Homo sapiens: one gene and its partners. The protein of the gene in region 3 purifies or fractionates together with the protein of the main gene of each other region. This does not show direct contact. Each region holds a gene or a part of one and is shown on either strand. Other genes may lie near its edges. The genes, in order: KCNJ8, TMEM219, MCOLN3, SLC12A9, ABCA3, SCAP and CLCN7.

Region 1 (3,500 bases), on a different chromosome or scaffold from region 3:
AAAAAAAAAGCTTATAGGATTTTTATGGTATGTCAGGCTTAGATTGAAAAACCAAGAGGACATTTTAAAACCTGAAATAAAATCAAAACAAAGCAAAAAAAAGCTAGTTTTGGAGCAAACAGACTTGAGAGAGAGGAATCTCAGAGTGAGTGTTATCACTTTGACATCTCTTTTACATGGCTCTAAAAACATCTTGAGTTTTAACTTGGGATGATTTTGTGAAAGAGGAATCACAAAACTACAGTGAGTACAAAGAAAATGTTTTAATAAAATATTCAATACAGTATTTCCCTGTGGGGATTCTAGAAGAAGAAGTGAGATGCTGAAGGAAGTGACTGTCACTGTGGGGAACCCAGTCCTAAATGAGACAAGACTTAGCTTTCCTTCAAAGACACCTTGTCCAGCTCTGCCCAACAGGCCGCAATGAGATGGACCAGGAAACCTTCAGGAGTCACCGACAGACAAAGCGAATGAACTGAATCCACTTACAAACAGATCCACTTAAGCAGTTTTTGCCTCAGGCTTCCTACCAAATGCAGTTATCATGGAGACAGGAGAAGGCTGATGTACAAAACGCATTAACATGATTTTGTTTTTTCCCCTCCTATTCTATTTGCATTTCCAGAGTGATCATTAGTAACACAGCGATCTGGGTTTCACCAACTAAGCATTTCAAACAGACTCATTTCTTGACCAAATTTTGTGCTCAAGGCCTGTTACTATTAGTGTAATTCTTGTGTTTCAAATTGAGAGAAACGAGCATACCCACCCCTGCACATAACTTAAGTATATCACTGCGAATTCTACATGTATGAAACAAGCATAAGCCATGAATCCTCCACTTGGTGTGTTACTTTTTATTACTACAGAAAGTGCTGTTGCTTGAATATGAATATCATTTAGTGTAATAAAATGTAGAAGGACACATTATTGTGTTCCAGCTCTGGTTCAGTCTGGCAGTGCCCAGCATAAACCGTCAAAACTTGATAAAAGACTGTCTTGGGGTTATCTTGCTGTCATGATTCCGATGTGTTTTGATTTCCTTCTGGAGTCATAAATTGCACCTTTGGTACCATGAGGGAAGAATTGTTCCTTCGGATAGAATTGTTCCTCCTCATGGAATTGTTTCTTCTCATGGAGTTGCGCTTCCTCAGAGAATTTTGATGAGACAGTTCACTCTTTTGGAGGGTCTGAATAAGGATGGAAGGTTTCTCATCCAGCTCTCGGGCACTGCACCGTGGAGCAGCTACTTTAACAGTGTTGCCAAATTTGGAGTAATCCACAGAATACACTCCTTCTTCCTCAGTCACAATGGACACAAAGCGGTGGCCCCATTGGATCTCCTCAGCAATGTAGGAGGTTCGTGCTTGTGTGGTGATGCCAGTAGTTTCAACCACTCCTTCCAGAATAACTATGACCTCCAAGTCTTGGTTGGCCAGGTCAGTTGCTGAGATGTCATACAGGGGACTGCGCTTGTCAATCACGTGGCAGATGATCAAAGGGGCCACCAGAAAAATGTTATTGCTCTCGATTGGGTTATCAACAGGAATGTCCAGTTGGTGAATAGGAACCACCTCCCCTTCAGGTGTAGTTGTTTTCTTGACCACCTGGATGCGCACAGAGGCACTAATGATCATGCTTTTCCTCAGGTCACCCACTCGGAACATGAAGCACAGCTTGCCATTTCGGACGGCAATCACAGCATGGCGGCTGAAAATCAAAGTTTCTGCCCTTCTGTGAGCCTGAGCTGTTTTCATGAAAATGCAGCCTAACATGACTGCATTGATGATCAAACCCACAATATTCTGGAGAATCAAAACCGTGATGGCCAAAGGGCATTCCTCTGTCATCATCCTCCCTCCAAACCCAATGGTAACTTGAACTTCAATGGAGAAGAGAAAAGCAGAAGTGAAAGACCTGTGAGGAATGATATCAGAAAAGAACACCATCAGGTCACATTTTGAATAATGAAATATGCCAAGCTGAGCTTTTCATTTTCTTCCACCAAAGACTATTAAATGCTTGCAGAAAGACTAGCCAACTTAAACTTGTAAAATGCCTAATTCTAAACTGTGTTTAGAACAGTCTCTCTCTCTCTTGCATGCATCTACCTCCAGACTTCTGGAGATTAACATTCTATTAATTAAGTTCCCTTAAGCTAAGGCCTAATTCTATTAACATTCTATTAATGTTTCATAGGTCACATAGTGATGGGCCTAATTTGTGTAAAAGATTAATATATTTTCATATATATGCATATTTTACCTTGCGAAATACTTCACTTTCACAAAGGCACAGTTTACTTTGTAAAACTTTCTACCAGGTAGATGTTTATTATTTATTGCGTATCTATGTTTAGGAGACTTGAGTCATATGGAAGGTACTGAGTACTGAGTGAATTTATTATTTATAATCTTTAAAATCATATTCATTAGCTAATACTTATTTTGTGTCTCATATAGAAATAGCACAGTGCTAAAAAAACTAGTATAAAACACATTATTCCAAACAACTAGTATTTTTAATAGAAGGGAGTTGTTTTCCATTTGGAAAGAAAAGTGTCTTATTGATGATCTAATTTTGTTAAGTCAGGGGTCCCCAACCCCCCCCCCCCCCACCTCCAGGCCAGGGACCAGTGCTGGTCCATGGCTTGTCAGGAACTAGGCCACACAGCAGGAGGTGAGTAGTGGGTAAGCCAGCATTACCGCCAGAGCTCTGCCTCCAGTCAGGTTAGTGGAGGCACTGGATTCTCATGGTATAGTGAACCTTATTGTGAATTGCACATGTGGGAGATATAGGTTATCCCTCCTTATGAGAATCTAATGCCTCATGATCTGAGGTGGGACAGTTTTATCCCCACACCATCCCCATCCCCCACCCCCATCAGTGGAAAAATTGGCGTTCCGCAAAACCAGTCCCTGGCTCCAAAAAGGTTGGGGAGCACTACTCTAGGTGTTCTGGAGAATACTGAAATGATTAAAGGGAGAACTAGGGGCAGAAACTAGTAAATGACTGTGTCAAGGTCACATACAGATATGCCTTATTTTATTCTTCTCTGCTGTAATGTATTTTGCAGATACTGCATTTTTATAAATTGAAGGTCTGTGGCAACCTTCATCCAGCCAGTCTATTATCACAATTTTTTCAAAACGTGCTCACTTTGTGTCTGTGTGTCACATTTTGGTAATTCTCACAAAATTTCAAACTTTTTCATTATTATTACATCAGTTACCATGATGTGTGATTAGTGATATTTGATGTCATTATTGTAATTGTTTAGGGCAGCAGTCCCCAGCCTTTTTGGCAACAGGGACTGGTTTTGTAGAAGACAATACTGGGGGGTGTGTGTGGGGGGAAATGGTTTCGAGATGAAACTGTTCCACCTCAGATCATCAGGAATTAGATTCTTACAAGGAGCCCGCAGCCTAGATCCCTCACCTTCGCAGTTCACCGTAGGGTTCACACTCCTATGAGAATCTAATGCCCCCACTGATGTGACA
Region 2 (3,500 bases), on a different chromosome or scaffold from region 3:
GAATGTTTTAAAGACAATAGTAAACAACAATAGCTGTCACTTATCAAATCTCTATGTCCCAGGCAATGTGCTGGGCACTTCACGGTCATTCTCATTTAATCCTTATTTGATGGAATTAAGAGATAGGGTCATGTTTTCTGTTTTACAGATGAGGATGCTGACACTCAGAGATGTTTAGACACTTGTTCTACGTCACACAGCCCCCAAGGCAGGGTTATAAAACCTGTGCTTTTTCTACAAGGTAGAATTGTTTCCAGGGACCTTCAAGATACAGTAGTCAGCAGGCAGTCTACAAAACCCTGGCGACCCATCTGAGGCTCTTACCGAGGTGAGCAGCTTGGTCAGCACAAGGCCTTCATGGCTCCAGACACTAACACATTCCTCACCCATTCTAGGGCTCAGGGTGGCATTTCCAGCCCCCTCCTCTGAGCAGGATATGGGTGGCTGGCTGGAGGGTAGGATTCCTGGAACAGCACTAAAATATAGGCAGGTTCCTGCAGTCCTTTCTGTGGTCACCCTGGCTGTGATAAGGACCAGTTGTCCTGCAGAAGATCCTGTGAAAGGCACAGAAGAGAAAATGGAAGAAAATGAGAGGTGACGCGGGAGCCTCTGTCTTCACGCTTCTTTTCTTGTATTTTCTTTTTTTTTTTTTGAGGCGGAGTCTCGCTCTATCACCCAGGCTGGAGTGCAGTGGCGCAATCTCGGCTCACTGCAAGCTCCGCCTCCCGGGTTCACACCATTCTCCTGCCTCAGTCTCCCGAGTAGCTGGGACTACAGGTGCCCACCACCAGGCCCAGCTAATTTTTTGTATTTTTAGTAGAGACGGGGTTTCACTGTGGTAGCCAGGATGGTCTTGATCTCCTGACCTCGTGATCCGCCCGCCTTGGCCTCCCAAAGTGCTGGGATTACAGGCGTGAGCCACCGTGCCCGGCCCTTTTCTTGTATTTTCTTTCTTTCTTTATTTTTTTGAGATGGGGTCTCACTTTGTCGTGCAGGTTGGAGTGCAGTGGCACGATCCCAGCTCACGGGAGCCTCAACCTCCTAGGCTCAAGTGATCCTCCCACCTCAGTCTCCTGAGTAGGCAGGGCTACAAGTGTGTGCCACCTACCTGGCTAATTTAAAAAAATTTTTTTGTAGAGACAGGGTATCACTGTATTGCCCGGGCTGGACTCAAACTCCTGGGCTCAAGCCATCCTGCTACCCTGACCTCCCAAAATGTTGGGATTCCAGGCATGAACCACCACGCCTGCCCCTAGTCATTTTTTAAGGCTTTCTATAATACCAGGTGTTTTGGCATTGATTCTATTCAATAAAGTATTCCATATACCATTATTTATATCACTGAGAAATGAAAATAACTTTGTATCAATATAAACACAAATTAAGTTGTAATTTAAATTAACTTAAATTACAATCAATACAACAACCATACTAATACTCGCAAGGCTGCAGTGAAATGGGCAGATACACATTGCCCATGTCAGTTTGCATAAACTAGTTCATTCTTTTTAAGAAAGCAGTTTCTCACTTGGTACCAAAATCCATTAAAAGGTTCTCACCCTATTTTAAATTAGTGGGGAAAGGATGGCCTCAGTAAATGGCCTTGGGAAAATTTCCATGTAGAAAAAAACATAGCGTCAAACTGTTATCTTATAAAATAAAGTTCAGATGTATTAAAGAACTATACAAACTAAAAAAAAACTTAAGTATTTAAAGAAAATACAGAATATTTTATTTTATTTTATTTTATTTTATTATTTTTGAGACAGAGTTTCACTCTTGTTGCCCAGGCTGGAGTGCAGTGGTGCAATCTCAGCTCACTGCAACCTCCACCTCCTAGGTTTAAGCAATTCTCCTGCCTCAGCCTTGTGAGTAGCTGGGATTACAGGTGCCCACGACCATGCCTGGCTAATTTTTTGTATTTTTAGTAGAGACGGGGTTTCATCATGTTGGCCAGGCCAGTCTTGAACTCCTGACCTCAGGTGATCCACCTGCCTCAGCCTTCCAAAGGCTGGGATTATAGGAATGAGCCACCACGCCTGGCCAGAATATTTTCTAATTTTAAAATGAGGAAGGGCTTCCTATGAAAGACACAAAACCTAAAAGTTTTAATAAAGGACAAGAGTGATAAACCTAACCTCATAAAAATTAAAGACTTCTATGCAATGAAAGATAAGTTAAAAAAACAAGTAACATATTGAAAATACCTATAATATATTTAAATGACAAAAGGTTTACTATCTAGAATAAAGACCTACAAATCAAGAAGAAAAAGACAAATAACTTAAAAGAAAAAGGAACAAAGGAAACAAACAGGTAATTCACAGGCAACATGAATACAGACAATAAACCATAAGAGGCTCAACCTTACTAGCAATCAAGAGAAAGTAAATAAAACAATTGGGTAATACGCCAGACCCGGTAGCTCATGCCTGTAATCCCAGCACTTTGGGAGGTGAGGCAGGAGGATCACTTGAGCCCAGTAGTTTGAAACTAGCCTGGGCAACATAGTGAGACCACATCTCTATAAAAAATACAAAAATTGGCCAGGCGCAGTGGCTCACACCTGTAATCCCAGCACTTTGGGAGGCCAAGGCGGGCGGATCATGAGGTCAGGAGTTCAAGACCAGCCTGGCCAACATGGTGAAACCCCATCTCTACTAAAAATACAAAAATTAGCTGGGCATGGTGCCACATGCCTGTAATCCCAGCTACTTGGGAGACTGAGGCAGGAGAATCTCCTGAAACTGGGAGGCAGAGGTTCAGTGAGCTGAGATCGCATCACTGCCCTCCAGTCTGGGTGACAGAGCAAGACTCCTTGGGCTGGGGGGCGGGAATTAGGTGAGCGTGATGGCGAGCACCTGTAATCCCAGCTACTCAGGAGGCTGAGGCAGGAGAATGTTTACTGCAAGCCCTGCCTCCCAGGGATAAGCAATCCTCCCACCTTAGCCTCCCAAGTAGCTGGGACCACAGGTGTGCACCACCACGCCTGGCTTTTTTTTTTTTTTTTTTTTGTATTTTTAGTAGAGACAGAGTCTTGCCATTTTGTCCAGGCTGGTCTCGAACACCTGCGCTCAAGCAATCTGCCTGCCTTGGCCTCCCAAAGTGCTGGGATTACAGGCATGAGCCACCACATCCGGCCCTAACTGTACACTTTCAATGGGTGAATTGTATGGTACATGAATCATATCTCAATAAAACTATTATATATCTATTTAAAAGTAAAAAGAATGGGAAAGAATTGTCCCAAGTCTGCATATATCGGACACATTCCTTATTTTTGTTAACATACATGTACATCTGGACATGCAGAGACCCACTCCCCCGACACATATATACTCACAGGAGAATCTTAGAATGATAGTGTTGTAAAGGACCTCAGAAGTCAGAAAATACCACCCTCTTCCATCCCTCTTTATCTTAGCATATTTTAGATAAGGCCAAATGTCACACAGGGATTATTGGCATCCACTGACATTTTCACATTCTCCCTATCGCTT
Region 3 (4,217 bases):
TCTGTAATGGAGCAGCCGGCAGGTTGAATAAAGGCTTGCCTGAACTTGGGTCTCGGTCTCTCTCGGTCTCTCTCTCCCTCTCTCTCTCTCTCTCTCGTCCTTTCTCTCGGCTAACTTCACAGATTGCACATAAAAAAGAAAAGGGGTTCAGAGAAGGTAAGTAACTCCCTAGAGACCAATAAGTGGCACAGAAGGGAATTTGGGCCCTCATCTGTCTGACTCCAAAACCTGGCTTTATCTATTCACCGGTCCTTATAACTCAGCTAAAACGAGGGTTAAGCAAGTGCCATCATTTATGACTGTGAACCTCTTCAAAGTTCAGATTGTTCCTGAACAATCAAGCATTTCAAACTCTTACCATCAAGTAAGGAGATAGCGTTACATCGTGTGTAGGCATATGGGGATTAAAGATTACATTATATTTTCCAAATTGCACTTGAGAATTGACTGTGCCAATTATATCCTTTCTGGGTATCTACCTTGTTCACAGTATGTGGGATCCAGGTTGAGGAACAGCATAAAATTCTTGTACCCTGTTGCAAAAATTTATTAGTAATCCATGCATACTGGTTTAGGATTTGAAAACAGGTTTTATAAAAGGTTTGCTAGGTATCGATCTAATTTCAGGAATACCCTAGTAGGGAAATTCAGTGACCTTTACAAATTTACCCGTGGCCAAAAAAAAAAAATAAGTAAAAATTAAAAATCAGAACACATCCAAAGTAATTATAATTAAAATTAACCAAAGTTCCTGATCCAATCCTGATAAGGGGTATTAGGTTTAATATTTACAGATAATTTATGAAGAAAAAGATTACGGTTCAAAGTCTACTTCAGGTATTTCTATTTACATTTCTTGGAAAAGTTTCCCAGGGCTCTTTCTGCCCCAGCCGCCAATCTACAGAAGAGTCTAGTCGACTGTCCACTCATTTCACAGCACTTGTCTGAAACTAGAAGACCCAGGGAGGGAACAAGGTTCAGGCTTGAAACGCTAAGACATTCAAGATTTCACCTTGTATGCAAAAATCAGAATGGGAGGCTGCAGCGGGGCCTCACACTCACCGGAGCTAGGCGCTATAGATCCCGCACCCGCGGAGCCCGGCAACCACCTGAGGGGCCTTGGCCAGGAGGGGGTGGCCCCCCGGCGCCGGCGGCAGCTCCGGAGCAAACCTGGCAAACCCGAGCAGGGCGGTGCGGGTTGCTCAGGGAGAAAATGAAGGGAGTGATAGGGTGGGGGTGGCAGGGAACGGGCACAACGCCGGCTTCCTCCGGACGGCCTCCTGCGTCCCACCTGTGCTCCTGAAAAGCGGCCCCCGACAGGGCGCGGCGGGAACCCGAGCCGGGAGTAGGGTCACGAGTTAAAGCGGCGGGGGCGGGAGGATGCGCGGGCGGCGGACGGGGCGCTCTCCTCCCGTCTGACTCTGGGCGGAGCGGGGCTCGAGGCTGCTGGAGTCGCTCGCTGACTCGCCCTGCGCCCTCGCCGCGGACACCGGAGCTGCGGCCGCTCCCCGCTGTCCCCCAGGTGAGCCCGCGGGGCGCTGCCCCGGGGCGTCGGGTGTCGCGGGAACGGCGCCCGCGGCGCACAGGGAGGGCCGGGGAGGCCGGGAGGCAGCGAGCTGTCGGGGACGCCGCGGGAAGGCCGGGCCGGGCAGTCGGCGCCATGGAGGGCAGGCGGGCTGGAGCTGGGCGCGAGATGCAGCTGTTCCGCGCCGCCCCCAAGCCGCCCGCAGGTCAGTGGAGGAGCGCGCCTGCCGGGCCTGCCCGGGGCTGGGCGGGTGGGGGTGCTCTGCTCCTCGGTCCCCCTCCAGGCCGCCGCCCACCTGTGGCCAGGGCTCAGAGGGCTGGAAGCCACCCCCGCCCGGAGCCCCTGGGCTGGAAGGCTTGGATGCCGGCCGGGGCTCCAGATGGCCTTGACGCGGCTCGGCTGGCCCCTTTCAAGGCGGACTGTCCCCCTGTTAGAGGTGGGGGCGGCTGGAAGTGGGGGCTCAGGCCCGGGTCGCTGCGCTGGCTGAAAGCAGCCGCCAGCCGGGCTGCGGCCGTCTGAGCTCCACGGCAGTGCCCGGGGATGGCAGCGACCGCTCTGGGACATCGCTGCAACCCTGCAGATCTTTCTCGCACACACTACCCAACAAAAGTGTCAACCCTTGTTGTTTGTTTGTTTGAAAAAAAAAGAAGACTGGAGAGACTAAAGTTTTGTGTCTGGTGAAGTGGGAAAGCGCTTCTGAAAAAACGAGGTTGCATAACTTTGTCGCCAACTGGGAGGCCTTTGCTATTTATACACTCCCGGGCTTTCTCCAATTTTCTACAGCTTACTCCAATCAAGCCTCTGCCCGCCAGGAACAGGTAACCTGTGTGTGTCCGTTTGCTCCTTCTAAGAGCATGCCTGATAGATACTTCGGTAGCCTCTCCGGATGGCCCCTTCGTCGGGTAGCCTCTCCTGATGGGGTCCTTCGCCCACCCTGCCTCCCGCGCCGGCGCTCCGGGTGAATGTCAAGGGTGGCTGGCTGCGAATACCTCCTTCAGCTGCTGGGGTTCCCGACAGTTTGCAGTTTTTAAAAGTGCACCCTCGGAAGGGCTTTTCAGACTGGGTAAACCTGACTTTTCCAAGGTCAGCATCTGGTCCTGGTGAATGAAATGTCTACCGGGACAACTCGTTGTGATGTGCTGAATATATGCTGGTTGGCTTGTTTTCTCTTTGTTCCTGTGGATTACTGTACATGGTGTGTGGCTAGTTTGTTTAAAATTTAATTTTCCCTGTATCAAAGTGGAAAGCGCTTAGTGTCAATATACAACTCACCAACATGCTTATTAACAGCTTCATCATTATGTTGGTGTTCATATGCGAGCTTTGGTCAACATGAAATCATCTGCGTTTTAAGTCCTATAGATAAAGTCTCCTTAAATGCTGGTTAAAATATCCTGCCTTTTTGAAGGAAGTAAAACTGTTAAGTGAAAATCCTAATTTATTAATAACTTTTTCTTTCCTTTATGCCTTTACCTAAGAATTACTGCATTTATGCTTTGACAGGCATTTTAACACGCACACAGGAGCCACACTTTAATGAGTTATATAATAATTATTTCATTTTGAAGGTACTGCATTTGCCATACAGTAAATATGTTTTATGGTTTATTCATCCAGCAGTATCCTTATTAATCTTTTCATTAACAAGAGTTTAAGAACCTTCCCCATGCTATTCTTTATAGCCAGTATCTATTGTTCGGAGATGTTGGGCTTCCTAAGAATGCTTGAATTGGAATCAAAAGTGGGGTTCTAGACTTGGAAAGCAGCATGGTATCTAACCAGTGACTTGTAAGATATTGTATGAATGCAGGTTACAATTTTCCTTCTTCATTGCTGAGTACAAGTTATTATTAAAATGTCAAATAAAGCCTGCCTTTCTATTCCGTATGGAAGGACGCTACTCATTGTTTGGGGTATTTTACTTTGAACAGGTTTCCATAGTATAATATCAATCTTAGTCTGAGGGAAAATCCAAGATCCATCCCAGTCTCTAGAGTGACTTCTCCGTCACTTTGAAAAAACTGATTCTGAAGACAATAAAACCAGCCCGACCCAACCCTTTTCAAACGTACCTGCCCCCCCCCCCAAATAGATATGAAGTACTTTGAAAATATGCTATAAATATAAGGCCTTCAATAAAAAGTCATTACAAGCGATGCCACAGACTGGGAATTAGGCTTAAATTGAGGGCCCATTTTCCCCTTTGTACAACAGTTATGTTTCCTGAGGCTCATACTGCCCCTTAAGAACCTTACTGGCTTTCTAGGAAGCCACCCTGTCTGCTGTGGGTGTTAGGTAGGTGAGTCTGCTTAGCGCTAGACCCTATGCAAAGGCTTTGTTTACTGTTTTATTTAATGCTCTCTACACTCATAACTATTTAATTCTGGCTACAATCATAGAAGGGTAGGTGTAGTTATTCCCATTTTGCTGGAGAGGAAACTGAGGCTCAGAAGGGCTAAGTGATTTCCCTGAGATTGCAGAAACGTCAAGTCATGGAACCAGGATTAGAAACCAAACTGAATCTTGTTCTTTACACTACACCCTGCTATCTTTAACTCGGTGGTTTTAAACATTTTTTGATAATCTGTGAAAGTTTTAGTTACCTCCCAGGAAAAAGTGTCCACAGCCACATATATGAAAGTTTTCATATAACTTCAAGGCCCACCTACCCTCTGAAGTCCTTCCCCCAGGT
Region 4 (3,500 bases), on a different chromosome or scaffold from region 3:
CAGCCGCACACTGGGGCCCGAGGTCGGGGGCAGCATTGGGCTCATGTTCTACCTGGCTAACGTCTGTGGCTGTGCCGTCTCCCTCCTGGGGCTGGTGGAGTCTGTGCTTGATGTCTTCGGGGCCGGTCTGTGCTCTGTCCGATCTGGGCAGTGCTGCGGGTTTACAGGGTCTGGGAGTGTGGGATCATGAGGGAGAAGGTCCTCTCCAGCAGAGGGGCAGACTGAGCCATTACCTTGGCTTTCTGGAGCTTCTGCTGTGTGGCCAGCATCGTGCAGGAGATATGGACATCCCTGAGATTGTCCTTGCCTGCAGGGAGCTAACCATCTAATCGGAGAGACCAGGCTAAGATTCTTAAAACTGACAGAGACCACCAGGGAGAGCTAAGATGCTAGGATGGAGCTAAGAGGGAAGTGGGGAAGGTGGACTCTCTGATAGCAGGTGGGCAGAGGAGGGCTTGTCTTGCTTTGGGTCACAGTTGGGGCTGGGTCCCTTCTTATTTATTTATTTATTTTGAGATGGAGTCTTGCTTTGTTGCCCAGGCTGGAGTACAGTGGTGTGATCTCCGCTCACTGCAACCTTTGCCTCCCGGGTTCAAGCAATTCTCCTGCCTTAGCCTCTTGAGTAGCTGGGATTACAGGCACTCACCACCACGCCTGGCTAATGTTTGTATTTTTAGTAGAGACGGGGTTTCACCATGTTGGCCAGGCTGGTCTTGAACTCCTGACCTCAAGTGATCCACCTGCCTCAGCTTCCCAAAGTGTTGGGATTACAGGCGTGAGCCCCGGCGCCCTGCCCCTTCTTCTTTTTTTTTTTTTTCTTGAGAGAAGGTCTCACTCTGTCACCAAGGCTGGAGTGCAGTGGTACCATCTCGGCTCAATGCAACTTCTGCCTCCCGGGCTCATGCGATTCTCCCACCTCAGCCTCCCAGTAGCTGGACTACAGGCATGCCTCCCCACACCTGGCTAATTTTGCAGTTTTTGTGGAGCTGGGGTTTCACAATGTTGCCCAGGTTAGTTTTAAACTCCTGGACTCAAGCAATCCTCCCACCTCGGCCTCCCAAAGTGCTGGAATTATAGATGTGAGCCGCCCACCATGCCCGGCTGGTGGGGTGCCTTAGGATCGGGCCTTCTAACTCTGTCCCTACCTCTCTCCAGATGCCACAGGGCCCAGTGGGCTCCGGGTCCTGCCCCAGGGCTACGGCTGGAACCTGCTGTATGGCTCCCTGCTGCTGGGCCTTGTGGGTGGGGTCTGCACCCTGGGAGCCGGCCTCTATGCCCGGGCCTCATTCCTCACATTCCTGCTGGTCTCTGGCTCCCTGGCCTCTGTGCTCATCAGTTTTGTGGCTGTGGGGCCGAGGGACATCCGCTTGACTCCTAGGCCTGGCCCCAATGGCTCCTCCCTGCCGCCCCGGTTTGGCCACTTCACCGGCTTCAACAGCAGTACCCTGAAGGACAACTTGGGCGGTGAGCTGGGTGCTGCCGTGGCAGGGATCTCGGGGTGAGGGGTGGGCAGACGTCGGGCCGGGCCCGTAAAACCTCTGGATGAGCACAGGTGTCAGAGGGAATGGAGGGCAGGAGGTCTGGACTGCAGAGCAGTGCAATTTAATTCAAGCCTGTCTAGCGTGTGCTTGGCCGGCAGGGCAGGAGGAAGCCCACAAAACAGTCCCTGCTTTAGAGGAACTTGTGTTCTAGCTGAGGAGAGACATGCATTCAGGAATCAGTTAAATAGCACAGAATGGCCCAGCATGACTTAAACAGATCAGGATCACCCAGGAGTGGAGAGAAGGGAGGCCTGACTATGGGCTGGGGAGGGCAGGAGCCGGGGAGCTGGAGGTGGCCTGAGATAGACAGGTGGGGGATTCAGCCAGGAGCTGGGAGCAGAGAGGGAAGGCATCTCAGGAAAGAGCTTGAGACCAGGTGCGGTGGCTCACGCCTGTAATCCCAGCATTCTGGGAGGCCGAGGCAGGAGGATCACCTGAGGTCAGGAGTTTGAGACCAGTCTGGCCAACATGGTGAAACCCTCTCCCCGTCTCTACTAAAAACACGAAAATTAGCTGGGCACGCTGGCTTGCACCTGTAGTGCCAGACACTCGGGAAGCTGAGGGAGAACTGATTGAACCCGGGAGGAGGAGCCGAGATTGTGCCATTCAGTGAGCCGAGATTGCACCATTGCACTCCAGCCTGGGAGACAGTGAGGTTCCCTCTCCAAAAAACAAACAAACAAAAAAAACACCATAAAATAAAAATACAAAAATTAGCCAGGGGTGGTGGTGCGCACCTGTAGTCCCAGCTACTCAGGAGGCTGAGGCATGAGAATCTCTTGAACCCGGGAGGCAGAGGCTGCAGTGAGCTAAGATCGCCACCACTGCCCTCCAGCCTGGGCTTCAGAACGAGACTCCGTCTCAAAAAAATAAATAGGCTGGGTGCGGTGGCTCCCGCCTGTAATCCCAGGACTTTCGGAGGTCGAGGCGGGTGGATCACCTGAGTCCAGGAGTTCGAGATCAGCCTGGCCAACATGGTGAAACCCCATCTCTACTAAAAATACAAAAATTAGCCAGGCGTGGTGGCGGGCACCTGTAATCCCAGCTACCTGAGAGGCTGAGACAGGGGAATTGCTTGAACCTGGGAGGCAGAAGTTGCAGTGAGCCGAGATCGCACCACTGCACTCTCGCCTGGGTGACACAGCGAGACTCCATCTCAAAATAAATAAATAAATAAAATTAAAAAGTTAGATGGGCATGGTGGTGCACACCTGTAGTCCCAGCTACTTGGCAGACTGAGGCAGGAGGATCGCTCTAGCCCAGGAGGTAGAGGTTGCAGTGAGCTACGATGGTGCCACTGCACTCCAGCCTGGATGACAGAGCCAGACCCTGTCTCTAAAAAATAAATAAATAAATAAAAGAGCGTGGATTAGGGTCTGGAGGGAGGAATATCGGAGCACTGGGGGGACGTGGCAATGTGTCTGGCTGACCCAGGGCCAGTGCAGGAACAGGCTGGGGTCTTAGTGAGGGCAGTGCAGGGGAGGCAAGAGGACCGTGGGAATGTGTGGAGAGGGTGGCTAAGAGGCCTGGATCCCTGAGACGGATGCTGATGCACTCTCCTCCCTGGGAGGATCCTCCTAGCTGGCTATGCTGAGGACTACACCACGGGAGCCGTGATGAATTTTGCCAGCGTCTTTGCTGTCCTCTTTAACGGCTGTACAGGCATCATGGCTGGGGCCAACATGTCAGGTGAGAGTCCCTGCCTGCTGCCTCCTGGGGGTTTGGGGCTGCCACCGTGAGGGACCCAGGGGGATGGCTGGAGGGCTGACCTCACTCCCTCTGCTCCCCCTCTCCAGGGGAGCTGAAGGACCCCAGCCGGGCGATCCCTCTGGGCACGATCGTCGCCGTCGCCTACACCTTCTTCGTCTATGTCCTGCTTTTCTTTCTCTCCAGCTTCACTTGTGACAGGTGTCTGGGGAGGGATGGGGGTGGAGTGTCGAACAAGATTGGTGCACCTGG
Region 5 (4,244 bases), on a different chromosome or scaffold from region 3:
CATAGGGTGTATTTTTAAGCCAGAGACGTGGTTCCAAAGGGAGCTATCGGGACAGACTTCCACAAAATCTCTGCTACTGCCTGTTTCCCTAACCCTTGCCGTGGCTTCAGTCCCGTTCTCCAGCCAGCTAGCTGTTCTGCCTCCCTAGGTGCAGGAAACGAGGTAATGAGGCAATGGAAAGTCCCCAGAGGGAGGTAACCATGGATGTTCTCCAACAAGCAAGTTAGCAAGGACCTCGTTACACGGCTCCCGCAAAGGCACCTGTCTGCCTGTTGACTCCAAACCTCTCCAACACCACAAACACTCTGAGCCATTCAGGGGAATGGGGTCTGCAAAACTCTCCCAGGACAGGGCCTGACATGCCTCACTCTTCCCCACAAGATGTGGGCCTTCAGTGTTTTGTCTGCCTAGAATATCACCCGGATACCTTTCTCTACCTACCCATCACTTCCCAGCCCACTTCTAGTACCATGGCCTCTGTGAAGCTTGTTTCAGGGGCTCTTTGTCTTGGCTGCCTGCACAATGGAATTTTCCAGGGCACTTTAAGACAGAAACTGACATCTGAGGCCCACCCCTGGAGATTCTGGGCTGTTTTGGGCCCAGGCTGGCTTCCCAGGTGATTGTAACGGGAAGCCTGGGTGGAGACCCTCTGCTCTTCTTGGAGCCAACTCTCCTCCACCTCTGGTCACCTGTTGCACCTTTTCTGGATGTGTCATGTGGTACTCATCTTGTTCTGTCTTATGTCACAGTTACTTGTGAATAAAGCATCTCTTTAGCTCTATCCTAAGACCCCTCCAAGAGCAGGGACTGTGTCCAATTCATCTTTTTTTTTTTTTTTTTTTTTGAGACAGAGTCTTGCTCTGTCGCCCAGGCTGGAGGGCAGTGGTGCCATCTCAGCTCACTGTAACCTCCACCTAATATGTTCAAGCGATTCTTCTGCCTCAGCCTCCTGAGTAGCTGGGATTACAGGCACGTGCCACCATGCCCGGCTAATTTTTTATATTTTTGGTAAAGATGAGGTTTCGCCATGTTGGCCAGGCTGGTCTCGAACTCCTGAACTCAAGTGATCCGCCCGCCTCTGCCTCCCAAAGTGCTGGGATTACAGGTGTGAGCCACTTAGCCCGGCTTCCAATTCATCTTTCCATTGTGCACAAGGCCTTCCCCGTCAGAGCCGTCCCCAAAGTTCCAGAATGCTTCCCCTCAATAGATTCCACAGTCTCCGGAAGCAGGGCTGGGGAAGAAATGGCAAACTAGGGATCTTACCTGGGCCTTCCCAGTTGAGACTACGTCAAAATGGGCTCCCATGAGACTGCCTGGCTCATGCAGATGGAAGGCTAACATCTTTTTAGAAACAACTCGTGCTACCCTCTCCTGTTCCAAAAGCCTGTCTGGTCAGAATGGTGGTAAGTCACTTTAGGAAGGGAGAGACGTCGTCCTGTTTTTCAGGTAGAGTTAGCAAAGGTTCAATTTAAAAGAAAAATTATCTAAGAAGTTAAAAATGAAAGTGTGGGGGAGATTCCCATGACATCCATTTTTATCTATTTTTCCCTTTCTCTTACATTTCTCATGAGGCAAACTTTCTAAAACAGTCTTAGTCTTTTCAAGTTTACAAAAGGCAGCGCCCAGACTATCTGAATAAAATGACGGGATGCCCAGGAGAAGAGTGAACCTCTCCCACGTGCTCCCTGCCTGGGCTCCATGCTGTCGCGGGGTCTCGGCTACTCACTCAGCGGGCATTTCTGGAGTTCCAGGAACACAAACCCCAACAAGATCCAATCGACGCCTTCCCGGAGTGCACAGTCCAGGACGTAACCCGGAGAACAAGCGGCAATTACCCCCTGAGGACATGGCTTCATCTGTGCGACAGACACCAAGCGCCTTCCCCACGCCCCTGACCATAAGGCCGTCCCGGCCCTTCTGAAGCGTGGAGCCGGCTTGGAACAGAGCCAAGACACACGGACGCGATGCACACAGGCGTCCTGACCGAGGGCGCCGAGAACGCGGCCTCCGGCGACTGCCACAAGCCCCTCCGCCTGGACTAGCGGCTCCCCTTTCCCGTTCCCACACAGTGGAGGGCGCAGCAAACGCCCGCCGCGGACCGTGGGCCTTGGATTCGGATTTGGAGGCTCCTCGGAACCAGAGGGTGGGAGCAGGCGGAATCCAACCCGGGCGGCTTTGCCACCGCGCGCCCGGCATCCCTGCGGCCGGAAAGCGGCGCCATCTCCGCAAGTGCGCGGCGGACGCCTGCATCCCTCGGGGCCGGGGCTGTCGGTCGCTACATATCCACCTTCTGGGCGCACACAGAGGGCCCGGGCCGTGCCGAGTCTCCGCAGGGTCGAGCTTCCCCGCGCGGCGCGGGCTCAGGCACTGCCCGCAGTGCGGGACACGCCCAAGGCTCGGATGGGAGCCGACGCTGAGGGAGCGGCACCTGCAGGGAGCGCCCGGAGCCGAGGCCGCGGCAGGAGGGGCGGGCGCGGGCGCGGCCGGAGGGGATGCGGGGTCGCGGGAGGGGCCCGCAGGCCAGGCCGGAGCTGGGGGGGGCCCGAGGCCCGAGCTGGCCGGCGAGGGTGGGAAGGGCGGACCCGGGTGGGGACCGCAAGCCCCGGGAACGAGCGCGCGAGCGGCGGGTCCCGGCGGCACTCACCGAGCCTGGGCGCCGGGGCGGCGGCGGCCGGCGCGCGGCCCTCTCGCGGGGTCCCCTCCCTCGGCCACCCGGGCTCCGCTCCAGCCTCGCAGTGGCGGCGGCACTGACAGCTGCGTGGCCGCCCTGGAGGGGAGGGTGCGCCTGCAACCCGCTACTGGCGGACGCAGCGGCCGCTCCGGCTCCTGCAGGGGGCGCCGCGGATGGCGCGTGCGCAGTCGGCCGCCCCTGCAGGTGCCCGGTCCACCCCCGGCCGCCTCGGCCGCTCCGGCCAGCCCAACCCCGCGCCTGCGCGGTGCCCCCTGCATGTCGCCCATGCCCGGCAGAGGGCGCTCTGACTTGCGCGTGCGCAGTCAGCCACCCTGCGAGTACGCGGTTCGCACCCGGCCGCGCGGCAGCCCGTGCTTGCGCACTGCTCTGTGCCCGCGCCTATGTCCAGCAGGGGGCGCGCAGCGGCGGTAGCCGAGCGAGGGCGCGGTGGCCTCTGACAGGAATGACTCTGCGCACGTGCGTTTCGCAGCAGTGGAAGTCTTCACACCCGGAAACTCGACTTTGGCCGTTTCTCCATTTCTCCTCACGCACTGTCTTTCCTTGGGCCCTCGTCACTCCTGGCACCGGGGGAAGGGCTTCCCCGCCTCTGGCCGGGCGCTGGGGCGCGACCGAAGGCGAGGCGGCGGCGAGGAACCTTCTGGAATTCGGCCGTCGGGGCAGGCGTCGAGTTTACAGGAGAAGGCGCGGTGTCCCGGGATGAGCGGAGTCGCCCTCACTTAAGGAGCGAGGGAGGCCTCGGGGGTCCCCAGCCGGGTAGGAGTCACCTCAGGCAGGAGGGCCCGGCCTTGTCGGGGTCACCTGGCGGGAGGGTCCCGGGGTGGGGCGGGGCCGCCTGTGAGGAGGGTCCAGAGAGGGTCGGGGTCACCTGAGGGGAGGGTGGGGGGGTTCGGGGATGGTTGGGGTCACCCGACGGGATGGTCCGGGGAGGGTCGGGTTCACCTGAGGGGAGGGTCGGGGAGGGTCCGGAGAGGGTCGGGGTCACCTGAGGAGGTGGTCCGGAGAGGGTCGGGGTCACCTCACGGAGCGAGCGGAACGGGGTCACCTGGAGGGAGTGTCCAGGGCGGGGGCCCTGCAGGGAGTCGCCTGCAGGGAGGGTCCCGGGCGTGTCACATTAGGCGGTCCCAGGGACGGGTCGCGGTCTAACGGGACGGGAGTGGGGAGGTGGGTCGGGGTGTCCCTGGGCCGGACCGGGTCGTGGGACTGGGTCGCCCCAGGCAGGAGAGCCTGGGAGGGGCGGGCCCCCTTGGCGTGGCAGGGAGAGGTGGAGTGAGGGACTCCCGGGCTCCAGCATGAGGGCGGGCGCCGCGCGGGGCCGACAGTTGCCGCGGGCCGGGGCCAATGGGTCCCCGAGCGCCGCCAGCGGCCGGACCACAGTGAGGTGCGTCCGTGGTCCCGGCGCCCCGGGTGAGGGAGGGCTGCTGCCGGTCCTGCCGCTGGGAGCCGCCTGCGACCCGCACCGCCAGCCCCGCGCCCAGCCAGCCGCCGGCACCACGACCCGACGGCCCCGACCTAATGCAACGCCCCGGGCCGGGGGCGGAAATCGCCCACCCCC
Region 6 (3,500 bases), on a different chromosome or scaffold from region 3:
GGCCCCTGGAAGCCTGGCTCTGGGGAGTTGCCCGTTGTGTCCTCCCTGCCCAGACCCTAGTGGCTTCTGAGGAGATAAGCCTGTGGGAGAAGCAGCTCCAGGGTTCTCAGGTACAGGAGCCATCCTCTCCCCAGAGTGGCCCAGGACAGGAGCCTGTTAGTTGAGTGCTCTGGGATGGACCCACTTGTGGCCACCACATTGCCCTGGGTCGGGTTCATCGGCCGCTGCATGGTGTGCAGACACTGGAAAGTGCTGGGCAAAATCATTCACCAGCCGGGCTGGGCTGGCCTTGGGGCAGCAGTGCCTCTTCCAGGGAGCTGAACTGAGATGGGAGGAAGGCTGAGGCCCCCTGGGACTAGGACCTCTGGGGGACTCTGGAGCAGGTCAGGTTGCTGGCCCTCTGACCGTAGGAATGGTAGCAGCTTTCTGGCTCCAGCTGAGGTGGAGCTTAGGGGTGGGGACATTCTGTGTCAAACCTCAGGGTGCTTCAGTGTATTTCCAGGCCAAGAAACTCAGCCCCTAACTGTGGAAAGGCAAGCAGGCCCCTCCAGCAGCAAGTGTTGGCAGGTGTTAGCAGGAGGACTTGGAGAGGCAGGAGAAAAGGACGCAGTGGGGCCTGTGTCCTCTCTCCATCCCCAGGCCTGAGGTCCCTGTGCTGCTTCCTCTCAGCATGAGGGCTGAAGCTGCTGGGGGTTGGGGCCCATTCCTCCCACTGAGTACCCCCTGCCCCACTGCAGGCTGGCACCGTTGTCTGGATTGGCATCCTGGTATACACAGACCCAGCAGGGCTGCGCAACTACCTCGCTGCCCAGGTGACGGAACAGAGCCCATTGGGTGAGGGAGCCCTGGCTCCCATGCCCGTGCCTAGTGGCATGCTGCCCCCCAGCCACCCGGACCCTGCCTTCTCCATCTTCCCACCTGATGCCCCTAAGCTACCTGAGAACCAGACGTCGCCAGGCGAGTCACCTGAGCGTGGAGGTCCAGCAGAGGTTGTCCATGACAGCCCAGTCCCAGAGGTAACCTGGGGGCCTGAGGATGAGGAACTTTGGAGGAAATTGTCCTTCCGCCACTGGCCGACGCTCTTCAGCTATTACAACATCACACTGGCCAAGAGGTGAGCTGGGCCGTGCCAGGTGCCACCTCACTCGATGGTGTCAACTCACCATCCCCTTTCCCCAATGCAGGAGGCCCACAGGTTTGAATTATGCAAATAATTAAAACAGTTCATAAGGTTGTGAGGTGGGAACTGGTGGTTTAGGCAGCTATAACCCAAGAGAGGAGTCCCAGGTTGCTCTGAGGAGTCACTGGTGGCTGCCAGCCCTCACCAGAATGAGACCCACCCACCTGTGCCAGGAGTGGGGAGGGAGATACCCCACACGGCCACCAGGGCTGTTTGGGTGCTGGTATCTGGGACAGCAAGTTGGCTGCTAAGCTGGGCTGGGGAGGGACCTACCTCTGTCCCCAACCCCCCATGCTGGGAGAGTCTGGCCGGTGGAGCTGAGGCCTGCCTGGGGAGGAGGGAGAGGACTGGCTGGCGAGCACAGCAGGAGGAAGCCCTGGGAGGCCCCCCGCTGAGGCTGCCCACTGTCCGAATCCAGGTACATCAGCCTGCTGCCCGTCATCCCAGTCACGCTCCGCCTGAACCCGAGGGAGGCTCTGGAGGGCCGGCACCCTCAGGACGGCCGCAGTGCCTGGCCCCCACCGGGGCCCATACCTGCTGGGCACTGGGAAGCAGGACCCAAGGGCCCAGGTGGGGTGCAGGCCCATGGAGACGTCACGCTGTACAAGTAAGGCTGCTGGGTGGGGTGGGGTGGGAAAGAGTGCGGGGAGGGGGACGGGTAGGCAAGAGTAGGGGAGAGGGAGGAGGGGAGGGGACAGGCTGTGAGGTGTGTCTCACAGCAGTCCGCCCTCCCGTGCAGGGTGGCGGCGCTGGGCCTGGCCACCGGCATCGTCTTGGTGCTGCTGCTGCTCTGCCTCTACCGCGTGCTATGCCCGCGCAACTACGGGCAGCTGGGTGGTGGGCCCGGGCGGCGGAGGCGCGGGGAGCTGCCCTGCGACGACTACGGCTATGCGCCACCCGAGACGGAGATCGTGCCGCTTGTGCTGCGCGGCCACCTCATGGTGAGCAGGGGCACAGTGGCCGGGTAGGGGAGGGCCGGAGCCTGGCCCATACCAACACCGGGCTTCTGCAGGACATCGAGTGCCTGGCCAGCGACGGCATGCTGCTGGTGAGCTGCTGCCTGGCAGGCCACGTCTGCGTGTGGGACGCGCAGACCGGGGATTGCCTAACGCGCATTCCGCGCCCAGGGTAGGTGCGGCTGCCCTTTCCTCCTTTGTGCCCCCACAACCCCCCTCACCCCACCCCCCGCCGCCACGTATCTCCCCTCCTTTCTTCCTCCGAGGTATCCCCCAACCCCTCCAGGCCCCCTCTCCCCCCACCCCCGCACCCCCTCCCACCACCCCGTACCCCCCTCTCCCCACCCCGCACCACCCTCTCCCCCCACCCCCTTTTCCCTTGCCCCTTCTCACTCCCACGCCCCCTCTCACCCCCGTCCCCCGCCCCCTCTCACCCCCCTCCCCCGTGCCCCCTCTCACTCCGCCCTCCTGGCCCCCAGCAGGCAGCGCCGGGACAGTGGCGTGGGCAGCGGGCTTGAGGCTCAGGAGAGCTGGGAACGACTTTCAGATGGTGGGAAGGCTGGTCCAGAGGAGCCTGGGGACAGCCCTCCCCTGAGACACCGCCCCCGGGGCCCTCCGCCGCCTTCCCTCTTCGGGGACCAGCCTGACCTCACCTGCTTAATTGACACCAACTTTTCAGCGCAGCCTCGGTCCTCACAGCCCACTCAGCCCGAGCCCCGGCACCGGGCGGTCTGTGGCCGCTCTCGGGACTCCCCAGGCTATGACTTCAGCTGCCTGGTGCAGCGGGTGTACCAGGAGGAGGGGCTGGCGGCCGTCTGCACACCAGCCCTGCGCCCACCCTCGCCTGGGCCGGTGCTGTCCCAGGCCCCTGAGGACGAGGGTGGCTCCCCCGAGAAAGGCTCCCCTTCCCTCGCCTGGGCCCCCAGTGCCGAGGGTTCCATCTGGAGCTTGGAGCTGCAGGGCAACCTCATCGTGGTGGGGCGGAGCAGCGGCCGGCTGGAGGTGGGCAGAGGGGCTAAAGGTGGGCAGAGCGGCTGTCCGCCCCGGGGATTGTGGGCCTTTCTGGCTGGCAGGTGCTCACAGCCTCTGGACTCGTAGGTGTGGGACGCCATTGAAGGGGTGCTGTGCTGCAGCAGCGAGGAGGTCTCCTCAGGCATTACCGCTCTGGTGTTCTTGGACAAAAGGTGAGCGTGGCCTGCCTCAGCCCCAGATGTCCCCAGCCTTTGTTGGCTAGGCCATACTCTCTTGAGTCTTGAGTTCTGGTTCTCTTCAACTGCTGTACTGTATGATTCGATTGACCTTCTTGGTGCCCAGCTCCACACCTGTGAGCAGAGGGCAGTCCACTTGGATGGGAAGGTAACAAT
Region 7 (3,500 bases), on a different chromosome or scaffold from region 3:
CCCGCACCCAGAGCGTGGGTTCGGTGCTGAGTGCTGCCCTTGCTGTCCCGGCCTGCAGAGCTTGGACTATGACAACAGTGAGAACCAGCTGTTCCTGGAGGAGGAGCGGCGGATCAATCACACGGTGAGCTGGACGCCGCTCCCTGCAGGGCCCCACGGTGCGGGGCCTGGTGCCGGCCGGGCCTGGGGCTGCTCTTCTGCCGGGGTGAGGTGACGCACCTCCTCCCTCCTCCTCTGACTCCGCCTCTGAGGCCTGTGGTTCGTCTGGTTTCTAGAGACAGTGGGAGGGTCACGGTCACCGTAACCAAGAAGGCTGCTCTTACGGCCGCCAGATGCGGTGCCCAGCATAACAACCGCTGGCTGTGAAGTTGTTGGGAATTCACCCACCTCCCCGAGTCACCCTCGGGCCCCGGGTGCGCCTCAGATGTTGGCCAGAAACTGTCCTTTGTGGGACTCAGCGCACCGTGCACACTGGGCCCTTCATAATCCCGGGGCCTGCAGGCGGTCTGGGCGGTCCTGCTGCTGCCAGAGTGACTGCGCCAGGGCCCTGCCTGACCCTCGCCCTGACCGCGCCCTGCAGGCCTTCCGGACGGTGGAGATCAAGCGCTGGGTCATCTGCGCCCTCATTGGGATCCTCACGGGCCTCGTGGCCTGCTTCATTGACATCGTGGTGGAAAACCTGGCTGGCCTCAAGTACAGGGTCATCAAGGGCAGTATCCTTCCCAGTGCGGCCGCTGCAGCTTGGGAGGGGGGCGTGGCCTGGGCCGAGTCCCGGGCAGAAGTCCTGAGCCCAGCGTGTTCCAGTGCAGGTGGAGGCGGCCCGGCCAGGCTGGCTGTGTCCCTGTCATGGTTGGGCCGTGAGACGTCTCTGGGATGTCCAGTGAACATCATGGCTCCACCCAGCAGGGTGGCATCTGCCAGGCTGGTCTGTGGGGCAGGGCTGAGGTCTGGGCTGGGTGGTCATGACGGGGAAGCAGCCAGCCCTCCTTGATGAGCCCCAGATATCGACAAGTTCACAGAGAAGGGCGGACTGTCCTTCTCCCTGTTGCTGTGGGCCACGCTGAACGCCGCCTTCGTGCTCGTGGGCTCTGTGATTGTGGCTTTCATAGAGGTGGGTGGCAGGATGCCGCAGCTATGGCGGACCCCATGAAGGATTGGGGGTCTTGGTGAATGGGCGGGAACCCCTGCAGCTCACCCACCCCCACCATCACATTGGCTGACAACCCGGGCACTTTTAGAATCACGTGGTCCAGACTCACAACCTCAGGAGGAGCAGACACACCAGGGCCTCTTCACCCCCAGAGCCCTGGGGTGCTGCTCCTGACCTACCAGCACAGGCCTGGGCACCCTCACCCCACTCCGCCCCTCCTTCCATCTCCTCACTCTGCCCTCCCCTCCTTCCATCTCCACCTCCGCCTCCACCACGTCCTTGATCTGTGTCTGGGCTGGGAAGAGTGAGAGCAGCTACCCCAACGACATGAGACCCTTCCCTGGGGCCCCAACGTGTGTGCTGCTCTTCCCTTCCCTGAGGCCCCGACGTGTGTGCTGAGCTCCCCTTCCCTGGGGCCCCGAAGTGTGTGCTGCTCTCCCCTTCCCTGAGGCCCCGACGTGTGTGCTGCTCTCCCCTTCCCTGAGGCCCCGACATGTGTGCTGAGCTCCCCTTCCCTGGGGCCCCGACGTGTGTGCTGAGCTCCCCTTCCCTGAGGCCCCGACGTGTGTGCCGCTCTCCCCTTCCCTGGGGCCCCGAAGTGTGTGCTGAGCTCCCCTTCCCTGGGGCCCCGAAGTGTGTGCTGAGCTCCCCTTCCCTGAGGCCCCGACATGTGTGCTGAGCTCCCCTTCCCTGAGGCCCCGACGTGTGTGCCGCTCTCCCCTTCCCTGGGGCCCCGAAGTGTGTGCTGAGCTCCCCTTCCCTGGGGCCCCGAAGTGTGTGCTGAGCTCCCCTTCCCTGAGGCCCCGACATGTGTGCTGCTCTCCCCTTCCCTGGGGCCCCGAAGTGTGTGCTGAGCTCCCCTTCCCTGAGGCCCCGACATGTGTGCTGCTCTCCCCTTCCCTGAGGCCCCGACGCGTGTGCTGCTCTCCCCTTCCCTGATGCCCCGACGTGTGTGCTGAGCTCCCCTTCCCTGGGGCCCCGACGTGTGCGCTGCTCTCCCCTTCCCTGGGGCCCTGACGTGTGTGCTGCTCTTCCCTTCCCTGGGGCCCCGACGTTTGTGTGCTGAGCTCCCCTTCCCTGAGGCCCCGACGTGTCTGCTGCTCTCCTCAGCTCCTGGGGCTCCTGGGGCTGAGGGGCTGCATCTGTCTCAGCCTGGCCGTGACCCACTCAGCCGTGCTTCCCCTCTTTCAGCCGGTGGCTGCTGGCAGCGGAATCCCCCAGATCAAGTGCTTCCTCAACGGGGTGAAGATCCCCCACGTGGTGCGGCTCAAGGTGAGGGTGCGGTGGCCCTGGCTGGGCAGGGTGGGCGCCCGCTCTTTGCTGGTTCAGGAGCAGCTCTCTTGGCTGCCTGCCTTCCAGAACTGGCCTCAGCCACCCTGTGTACTGGTGGCACTGTGTGCAGATGGGCTGGCTGGGTGTGAAGGGGTCACCTTTTTTTCTGAAAGTGGTAACAACTGGTATTTGCACATATTAAATTACGTAAGAAATGAGTAGTCATACAGAAATGCTTGCGTGGTGCATGTGTGACACAGCTGTGCGACGCGTCTGTGACTGTGGGCTGCGTGGTGGTGACTGATTCACCGTGGAAGCTGTCGTGGTAGTGGGCGTGTAGCAGTTTCCCGCTTTCAGTTTGCCTCATGGTCATTTACACTTGGTGTTATCAGAGCATCTGGTTCTGGAGGTGCTGGGAGTCCTGACCCAGTTCCGCTGTGGTTGCTTCTGTCTGTGCCGCCATCGTTCCTTAGCCTGAGACTTGCCGCAGCCCCGTCCCGTCTGAGGATGGGTGGGCAGCATGGCCGCTGCCCCCTGGGGGTGCTTCCGGGGCCTGGTCCCCGTGGCCAAGGAGCGGGACCAGTGTGTCCCCTCTGGCGAAAGCTCCCAGGTGACCTTGGGGTGCCCCTGCCCTGTGGTGGGAGATCAGGTTTACTGGAGCAGCTGGGAATGGCGACCCGCCTGTCACCCGCGCCAGGCTGGCCTGAACCTTCTTGGATGTTGCTCTATAACTTTTGTTGGCTGAGGGTTGAGTTTGCTCGGCATCTTTAACATACAGTCCTCCCCCACACACTCAGCGCCCTTGTGTTTAGGGTCTGCGCCCTTGTGGGTTCTGCCCTGGGGCAGGGAGGCTGATAAACACCTTACACACCTTCTCAGGTGGAGAGGATGAGGCCCCTGGGGGCGGGGAGCAGCCGAAGGGAGAGGGGGCATCGTGGAGCCGCAGGTGACCAGCCTTCCAGTGCCAGGGGTGTATGAGGAGCCTTGCTAGGCGGGGCTAGCGGGAACACCTCCCCTGTGCTGGCCACGCTGGCGGAGGCAGGTGTGCCTGTAGGATGCGGTGGGCGGCCCAGCTTTG

What was found.
Region 1: the proteins of MCOLN3 (region 3) and KCNJ8 purify together in Homo sapiens (affinity purification with mass spectrometry; 3 studies listed by BioGRID and IntAct, with this or other methods). This does not show direct contact.
Region 2: the proteins of MCOLN3 (region 3) and TMEM219 purify together in Homo sapiens (affinity purification with mass spectrometry; 3 studies listed by BioGRID and IntAct, with this or other methods). This does not show direct contact.
Region 4: the proteins of MCOLN3 (region 3) and SLC12A9 purify together in Homo sapiens (affinity purification with mass spectrometry; 3 studies listed by BioGRID and IntAct, with this or other methods). This does not show direct contact.
Region 5: the proteins of MCOLN3 (region 3) and ABCA3 purify together in Homo sapiens (affinity purification with mass spectrometry; 3 studies listed by BioGRID and IntAct, with this or other methods). This does not show direct contact.
Region 6: the proteins of MCOLN3 (region 3) and SCAP purify together in Homo sapiens (affinity purification with mass spectrometry; 3 studies listed by BioGRID and IntAct, with this or other methods). This does not show direct contact.
Region 7: the proteins of MCOLN3 (region 3) and CLCN7 purify together in Homo sapiens (affinity purification with mass spectrometry; 3 studies listed by BioGRID and IntAct, with this or other methods). This does not show direct contact.

Annotation. Positions count from the first base shown.
Region 1 is NC_000012.12:21,764,707-21,768,206, forward strand, and holds the end of KCNJ8 (ATP-sensitive inward rectifier potassium channel 8), read right to left. Parts: intron 1,918-3,500; coding exon 1,017-1,917; 3' UTR 249-1,016; downstream 1-248. UniProt on the Homo sapiens protein: Inward rectifier potassium channels are characterized by a greater tendency to allow potassium to flow into the cell rather than out of it.
Region 2 is NC_000016.10:29,965,079-29,968,578, reverse strand, and holds part of TMEM219 (insulin-like growth factor-binding protein 3 receptor isoform 1 precursor), read right to left. Parts: intron 555-3,500; coding exon 325-554; intron 1-324. UniProt on the Homo sapiens protein: Cell death receptor specific for IGFBP3, may mediate caspase-8-dependent apoptosis upon ligand binding.
Region 3 is NC_000001.11:85,045,701-85,049,917, reverse strand, and holds the start of MCOLN3 (mucolipin-3), read left to right. Parts: upstream 1-1,417; 5' UTR 1,418-1,522; intron 1,523-1,652; exon of another isoform or gene 1,653-1,660; coding exon of another isoform or gene 1,661-1,730; intron 1,731-2,308; exon of another isoform or gene 2,309-2,343; intron 2,344-4,217. UniProt on the Homo sapiens protein: Nonselective cation channel probably playing a role in the regulation of membrane trafficking events. Acts as a Ca(2+)-permeable cation channel with inwardly rectifying activity.
Region 4 is NC_000007.14:100,855,713-100,859,212, forward strand, and holds part of SLC12A9 (solute carrier family 12 member 9), read left to right. Parts: coding exon 1-125; intron 126-1,155; coding exon 1,156-1,464; intron 1,465-3,122; coding exon 3,123-3,230; intron 3,231-3,337; coding exon 3,338-3,449; intron 3,450-3,500. UniProt on the Homo sapiens protein: May be an inhibitor of SLC12A1. Seems to correspond to a subunit of a multimeric transport system and thus, additional subunits may be required for its function. May play a role in lysosomal ion flux and osmoregulation.
Region 5 is NC_000016.10:2,337,929-2,342,172, forward strand, and holds the start of ABCA3 (phospholipid-transporting ATPase ABCA3), read right to left. Parts: upstream 2,801-4,244; 5' UTR 2,645-2,800; intron 1-2,644. UniProt on the Homo sapiens protein: Catalyzes the ATP-dependent transport of phospholipids such as phosphatidylcholine and phosphoglycerol from the cytoplasm into the lumen side of lamellar bodies, in turn participates in the lamellar bodies biogenesis and homeostasis of pulmonary surfactant.
Region 6 is NC_000003.12:47,416,942-47,420,441, reverse strand, and holds part of SCAP (sterol regulatory element-binding protein cleavage-activating protein), read left to right. Parts: intron 1-737; coding exon 738-1,114; intron 1,115-1,598; coding exon 1,599-1,787; intron 1,788-1,919; coding exon 1,920-2,121; intron 2,122-2,192; coding exon 2,193-2,308; intron 2,309-2,615; coding exon 2,616-3,138; intron 3,139-3,234; coding exon 3,235-3,320; intron 3,321-3,500. UniProt on the Homo sapiens protein: Escort protein required for cholesterol as well as lipid homeostasis.
Region 7 is NC_000016.10:1,458,029-1,461,528, reverse strand, and holds part of CLCN7 (H(+)/Cl(-) exchange transporter 7), read left to right. Parts: intron 1-58; coding exon 59-124; intron 125-580; coding exon 581-713; intron 714-1,001; coding exon 1,002-1,111; intron 1,112-2,341; coding exon 2,342-2,422; intron 2,423-3,500. UniProt on the Homo sapiens protein: Slowly voltage-gated channel mediating the exchange of chloride ions against protons. Functions as antiporter and contributes to the acidification of the lysosome lumen and may be involved in maintaining lysosomal pH.